2 linked regions of the Homo sapiens genome follow. The protein of the gene in region 2 purifies or fractionates together with the protein of the main gene of each other region. This does not show direct contact. Each region holds a gene or a part of one and is shown on either strand. Other genes may lie near its edges.

Evidence for each region.
Region 1: the proteins of TLDC2 (region 2) and GLDC purify together in Homo sapiens (affinity purification with mass spectrometry; one large-scale study listed by BioGRID and IntAct). This does not show direct contact.

What each region holds. Positions count from the first base shown.
Region 1 is NC_000009.12:6,639,230-6,642,729, forward strand, and holds part of GLDC (glycine dehydrogenase (decarboxylating), mitochondrial precursor), read right to left. Parts: intron 436-3,500; exon of another isoform or gene 1-435. UniProt on the Homo sapiens protein: The glycine cleavage system catalyzes the degradation of glycine.
Region 2 is NC_000020.11:36,874,667-36,878,937, reverse strand, and holds the start of TLDC2 (TLD domain-containing protein 2), read right to left. Parts: upstream 2,801-4,271; 5' UTR 2,764-2,800; coding exon 2,731-2,763; intron 1,040-2,730; coding exon 884-1,039; intron 1-883.

The sequences.
Region 1 (3,500 bases), on a different chromosome or scaffold from region 2:
AGGTGTCCACAGCCACAAAAAAAAAGAAGATCCGCACATCACCCACCTTCCGGCGGTCCAAGACCCTGCGACTCCAGAGACAGCCCAAATATCCTCGGAAGAGCGCCCCCAGGAGAAACAAGCTTGACCACTATGCTATCATCAAGTTTACGCTGACCACTGAGTCGCCATGAAGAAGATGGAAGACAACAACACACTTGTGTTCATTGTGGATGTTAAAGTCAACAAGCACCAGATTAAACAGGCTGTGAAGAAGCTCTATGACAATGATGTGGCCAAGGGCAACACCCTGATTCGGCCTGATGGAGAGAAGAAGGTATATGTTCGACTGGCTCCTGATTATGATGCTTTGGATGTTGCCAACAAAATTGGGATCATCTAAACTGAGTCCAGCTGCCTAATTCTAAATATATATATATCTTTTCACCATAAAAAAAAAGTATATATATATATATATATGGACAAAACAGATTCTGCTGTGAGGGACTACATATACAAATAGACAATTACCAGACCATATTTAAAAATAGAACTTTCACCCACACCTGTCCAGGAAACTAACCCGCTTACTTAGAATAAACAATCAAGGAAGCCAGCCTGCTACAAGTTAGACTTACAGAGAAAGCCAGATTGCTATCTCTAGTGACAATCCAGGAAACCGAACAACAACTTCCCTAACAATTGGCCCCAAATGGCCAGAACTCGATTAATAACTGATAGCTTCCCTAATTTTTGTCCCACTTCCAACATAGGACCAACCAGGCTAAGCCAAACATGTACCCATAACCAATCACATCAGTTGCCCGACTTCTAGTAAATCCTCAGACAGCTTCCCTTGTAAACAACCTCCAATCAGAACACACCTAAAGGCTTCCCTTTTTTCCACAATAAAGCTTTCCTCTCCTCTGCCAATATGCAAGTCTGACTCCCTTGCTACAGCAAGCTCATTACAGCCTTTGTTTCTCTCATTTAGCTAATCTTTACTGTTACAGTCATTTAATGGAAATTTATTGGAATCATCCTAAAGAAGAAATAATAATTCCTATAAGCTGGGAATTGAATGAGTCGGGAATGGCCAAAGGAAAGCCTTGTCACAGACTGCGGGGCCTACAGGCAGGACCTGGCAATGGGCATCATCTGGCTAAAGACAAGTCGTGGCCTCGGCCTGGGGAACAGCTGCCACGGCCTAGTTGCCCCTGGGGTCAGTTCAGGAGAGTGCGCAACCCAACTAGGGTGACAAAGCCAACACCTGCAGCTGCATTACACAATGCTCCCTCCCTCCGCTCACTGCCCTCCATTAACCATTTAGTAGAAATCACTCTGGAACATTCAGCTGGCACAAGTCCATCATTCTGACAACTCATCTCCTCAGTTCTAGTTGAATAATGTGAACATTGGAGGGTTTAGTTTCTCCTCTCTCTTCCACAAGCAATGTGCAATTTTGTGTAAACTTTAATCCCTGCAGTTTATCTATGATTAGTTCAGTCTAGTTCAGTCTAGTTGCCTTGAGATGAATTCACTGAAAAGACTACACAGCGAGGCATACCATAGCTAAAAGTAACTGGCTTTGGTCATAAAGTAATTTTTAACTTTGAATTAATTATAAAATGAATACCTACACTGCAGAAAATTCCAAAACTGCAAAGTAATTAAAGGAAAGCTAAAACCACTAATAAGGGCACCATTCAGAGAAATCAGTGTTGCCAGTGACACATATCCTTCTAGTCCTTTTGTTGTTGTTGAGTGCGTGTGGATGGGGAATGCAGGATTCACTTGAGCAGGACAGGATTTTGAACTGAATAGCTTTGCTTGTTTCTCTGAATAATGACTTACTTAGCAGCCAGTTCATGATCAAAGTATTTTGTCAAGGCACTTTCTGAATTGTCCAAGAAGAGGGGGAGCATCCTTAGTGACTGATGAACCACCCGTCCTCCCCTGGTTCTGTCCGGCCATTCTGTCCTATACATGTTAATCCCACTACCTCCAGCAGCCTCCCCCAGATTTATCTAGCAGAGCATCACTGCTCATTCTTCAGTATTGCACTTCCGTGACCCCTTCCCTTGCCCTAGCAGCAGGCTTGAGTGTTCCCACGTCTGTGCTGCCAGGAAGCTGCTGCGTTTCCACTGGGGCAGTTGGCATATGGCAGGGTGATTCTAGTGCAACTGGGTTTGTGCACATCTGTAAACTGGATATTCCAGGTGAGTCAGGACAGAAGTTTTCCACTTTGTACACCCACGACCTTGCAAAGGACAAAATGAAGAGAGAGCAAAGTAGTGGATGGAGTGTGGACAGTGGAGCTGGGCTGCCTGGGTTTGAATTCTGCCTCCATCACTTACCAGCTATGACCTTGGGCAAGTCATGCATCATCTGAATATCACGGTTTCTTCATTTTTAAAACAGAAGTATTAATGGTATTTTCCTCATAGGGTTGTAATATACATTAATACATGAAAGCACGTTAAAGAGTGTCCAGTACATGGTAAGCACTACATAAATGTCTGAGATTACTGAGTTATGTGTAATAAGTAACCCAAGTATTTCCAAACTGATCACAATCTTTACTCTGCAATGAAGACATTTAACACTCCTATAACTAGCTCTCACTACAGTTTTCTCTGTACATGGCAAATAAATATTTAATCCAGAATTCCTTTCTGACTACACTAGAACACAGGCATTCACATGAAGCCAAGTTTGAGTAATGGTGCTCCACTATTAAATGGAAATGCTACTACCAGAGCTTACATGCACCAATTTGCTCTCCCCACCTGGAGAATATTCATTCACCATGACACGTGCACACCTCAGAGTCAAAATTCATCCTTTGCAGATGCATCCTCCTCCACTCTCCCAACACCCCCAGCTCACTATTCCAAGAAACAAGCTTTGTTGGAGAACTGGTCCATTTCAGGGAATGGGGGGACTTCTGATTGTGCAATATTTTCTGCGTGAATCATCCCAAACTAGATGGAACAAGCTCAAAATGTCACAGAAGCTGCTAGGTTTAAAATTTATATGGCATGGGCATGGTGGCTCATGCCTGTAATCCCAGCATTTTGGGAGGCCAAGGTGGGTGGATCACCTGAGGTCAGGAGTTCAAGACCAGCCTGGCCAACATGGAGAAACCCCATCTCTACTAAAAATACAAAAAATTAGCCGGGCATGGTGGTGCACGTCTGTAATCCCAGCTACTCAGGAGGCTGAGGCAGGAGAATGGCTTGAACCGGGGAGGCAGAGGTTGTAGTGAGTAGAGATCATGCCACTGCACTCCAGCCTGGGCAACAGAACAAGAATCCATTTCAAAAATAAAAATAAAAAATAAAAAAATTAAGTTTATATTCAAGTTGCAAATTACTTTTCAGGAGCCCACTTCCACAGTGAAGAATCAGAATCCCTTAATGTTCAAATTATTCAGCTGGAACCAAGAACTAAACTAAAAAAGGATACACAACTTTGCCATGTTTCCCAGGCTCTAATGCTCTGAAAAGAACACTTTATTT
Region 2 (4,271 bases):
ACAGGCGATAGAGCAGTTTGCTGTTTCTAGGGACTTTCATGCCATCAGCCATAGCCCTCGGAGATAGGGGTTGTTATTCCCATCTTATAGATGAGGAAACTGAGGCCCAGGGAGGGTGGAACAACTAGCCCAAAGCTCGCATGGGTAGTGAATGGTAGAGACAGGATTTGAACCCAGGTCAGGACTCTCAGGACTCTTTCTGCTTGGTCACCCTTGCCCCCAGAGGCTAGAGAATAGGAAAGATGCTGAACCCTCCTCCTGATCCTCCGTCTCATCCGCCCACCCCTCTCCAGCTTTGGCCTCAGTTCCCAAGGGCTGGTTCTAGGTAGGAATTAGTTTCTTTCCTTTTTTTCTTTTGAGACAGAGTCTCACTCTGTCACCCAGGCTGGAGCAGAGTGACACAATCTCAGCTCACTGCAACCTCCGCCTGCTGGGTTCAAGCAAATCTTGTGCCTCAGCCTCCCGAGTAGCTGAGACTACAGGTGCACACCACCACACCCGGCTAATTTTTGTATTTTTAGTAGAGACAGGGTTTTGCCATGTTGGCCAGGCTCGTCTCCAGCTCCTGGCCTCAAGCGATCCCCCTGCCTTCGCCTCCCAAAGTGCTGGGATTACAGGCGTGAGCCACCGCGCCCGTCCTAGCCTCTTTCTTTACCTCCTTAACCTCCTGGCCCAGTGTAGAGGGAGGTGCTAGCAACACTGGATGATTTTACAAGAAGGGAAAGCAAAGCCCCGAGAGAAGAAGCAATTTGCCGGAGGTAACGCATGATGAGAACAGAGCAAGAGTGACTCTAGGTGCCCCTGGGCGTGGCTGGTGTAGGGCAGGAGGGTGAGACTCTTAGGTTTAGGGCTGAAATTCTTGTGCCATGGGCAATGCCCAGACCTGCCGAATCTCTGAGGCACTCAAAACCTGGCTGGCTTCTGTCAGCTGGGGCACCGTGGGATCCTCAGGAGCAGCAGCTGGGTCTGGAGCTGCCTCCTCCTCCTCTTCCTCTTCGTTACCCTCCTCCCCAGACAGGGTGTCCTCCACCTGGCTGGGCTGCAAAAACACAAAGTGGCCTGGTGTGTCCAGGGACAGGAGGTCCCAGCTTCTACCATCTCCTGAGCCCAAGAGCCTCCTCGGGCCACCTCATCACTCCCTGCCCATGTGCCTGTAACCCCCAGCCCAGCCCAGGGTAGTTGGGGGTTTCCACGACAGACAGGACGCTGCCCCTGCCGCCAGCCTGCTTCCTCCCTGGCCCCTGCCAGCTGAGGGCTGGAGCACAGTCCCCCCACCCCCGCCAGCACCCCACAAGGCTCAGATGGGGCCGTGGGCCGTGCGACTTGTCGGTCTGTTTGCCATGGTCCTGGGTGGGTGGCAGGGATCAAGTTCTAAGCTTGGGAGCAGAGGGGAAGGCAGGTGGTGGCATAGCCCTGGGAGCTTCAATTGTGTGTGTTTGTACATTAAATAATAACAACAAAAAACCCATCCTTGCCCAGGCCTGTGTTCAGTGTGCACTGTCTGTGATCTCTGTGTGTTTCTTCTTCTTTTTTCTTTTTCCTTTTTTTTTTTTTTTTGAGACAGGGTCTTGCTCTGTCACCCAGGCTGGAGTTCAGAGGTGCAATGTCAGCTCACTGCGACCTCTGGCTCCCAGGTTAAAGCAATTCTCTTGTCTCAGCCTCCCAAATAGCTGGGATGACAGGTGCCCACCACCATGCCTGGCTAATTTTTGTATTTTTAGTAGAGACACGGGTTCCTCCTGTTGGCCAGGCTGGTCTCGAACTCCTGACCTCAGATGATCCACCTGGCCTCCCAAAGTGCTGGGATTACAGGCGTGAGCCACCGCGCCTGGCCTTCTGTGTATTTCTTCTTATCAGCATTTTCCAAAGGAAGAAAATGAAGCCCAAAGGTTTCCCCATGAAGCCCGTGAAATGATGCATGCAGTCATATGTGGGATCATACATGTAGGTTCATGTAAAATGTGTTTGTCTGTGCGAATTGTGTGTTGGCTTGGAATAGAGTTGTGTAGGCACATCAATGTGTGGAGGTATTGAGTGTAAATTTGTGTTTATATATCAATGTGTTTGTGTGAGTTGTGATGGTGTAAATATCTACATCCATAAGGGGCATCATTATTCACTCATTCATTCATCCGAGCTTCCACTCTGTACCAGAGTGTGTGTGTGAGTGTGTGTGTTTGAATGTGTGTGTGTCTGTATGTGTGTTTGAGTGTGTGAGTGCATTTGAGTGTGTATGAGTGCATTTGAGTGTGTTTGAGTGTGTGAGTGTGTGTGTTTGCATGTGTATGCGTGTGAGTGTGTATATGTTATATGTATGTGTATGTGTGTGCCTCCACACAATGACCTTGCAGGCTTTTCCCAGGAAGAAGAGACCTCTCAAGGGCTGAGAGATGGACAGGACCCCCTCTCCTGCCCCGCTCTGTTCTCCAGGCTCAGGCCTGAGGCAGGTCTAGCTGTGTGTGGCTCTGAACAGAGCTCCATCCAGCACCCACTCCAGGGAGGAAGGGACAGAGACATCGGTCTGTCCCCCTTGAGAACCTTGGAGCAGGGGTGTTAAGACCCCATGTTCCTGAGTCAGTCCTTGCTCCAAACCACAGGCCTGCCAGGGAGGGACTTGAGAGGGGAACAAGTCACTGCCCGCATCCAACCCTAGCCCAGGCCCCACCCTGCCAGAGACCTCACCTCCTTTCACCTCCCAACCTGCACCACAGACGGAGTTGGAACCCTTACCAGCCGAGTGTAACGCCAGCGGAGGCCTCTCATTCTCCTGTCCCTGCTCAGCCGGCCGTGGGCAGTGAGTGAATCCTCAGCCCTGCCCAGGAAGGAAGCGCTGATAGGTGAGGCCTAGAGATGAGAGGGAGAGGCCTGGGGCACACCCAGCCAGCTCCATGCCCACGCCAGCTGCCCTTTGCTCCCTCTCACCTGTCACTCCAGGCCGAGCTGCTGCTGGGTGAGTCTGTGAGCAACTCGGCATTCAAGACCTCATTGCAGTTAGCATGTAACACGTATTAACCATACACCATAGATTCTGGTTGCAATTCCTTTCTACCTCCTTGTCCTTCTGGCAGCCTGGCCTTGGGACTGTGGGCCATTGGCCAGATGCCTAAGGCCCAGGCTGGAGGTCTGGGGCCTCTAGTTCCCCGTATGACCTTGGATAAGCCCATTTGCACTCCTGAGCCTCAGTTTCACCACACACAACATGTAACATGTTGAACCAGATAATCTCAGAAGACTTCGCGGGACTGACAGTCTGCCATTCACTTCCCTCTCCAAGCCGATGAGTGTGTTAGAACAGAAGCTAGAAGGGGGCATGCCTAGACTGAAAGAACAATCTGGCCCAGTGCAGTGGCTCATGCCGGTAAGCCCAGCACTTTGGGAGGCTGAGGGAGCCGTATCACTTGAGTCCAGGAATTTGAGACCAGCCTAGGCAACATGGTGAAACCCTGTCTCTACAAAAAATATAAAAATTAGCTGGGCATGGTGTCGTGCGCCTTAATCCCAGCTACTCGGAAGACTGAGGTGGGAGGATCACCTGAGCCTGAGAGGAGGAAGCTGCAGTGAGCCGAGATCATGCCACTGCACTCCAGCCTGGGCAAGAGTGAGGCCTTGTCTCAAAAAAAAAAAAAAAAAAAGCTATTTTTACTTTGCATCCTAAACACAGATGTATTTTAGGCTTTCATCATTGCTTTGCTTGTCATTTAACAGAAAGTTTCTTTATTAAGTCTTTGTTTCTTTTTCCATATTTAGTTTCAGATGGGGGTGGGGGGAACAGATGAATTTCTTTTTTTTTTTTTTTTTTTGAGTCAGAGTCTCACTCTGTCGCCCAGGCTGGACTGCAGTGGCATGATCTTGGCTCACTGCAAGCTCTGCCTCCCGAGTTCACGCCATTCCCCTGCCTCAGCCTCCCAAGTAGCTGGGACTACAGGCACCCACCACCACGCCTGGCTAATTTCTTGTATTTTTAGTAGAGACGGGGTTTCACTATGGAACATATGAATTTCTAAATTGAAACATAAATAAACTTTTGTTAATGTTCAGTAAAAAAAAAAAGAATAGATTTTAAAAGGTGTTTTGTTTTGTTTTGTTTTTTGAGATGGAGTTTCACTCTTATTGCCCAGGCTGGGGTGCAGTGGCGTGATCTGGGCTCACCGCAACCTCTGCCTCCCGGGTTCCAGTGATTCTTTTGCCTCAGCCTCCACCCAGCTAATTTTGTATTTTTGGTAGAGATGGAGTTTCTCTATGTTGGTCAGGCTGGTCTCGAACTCCTGACC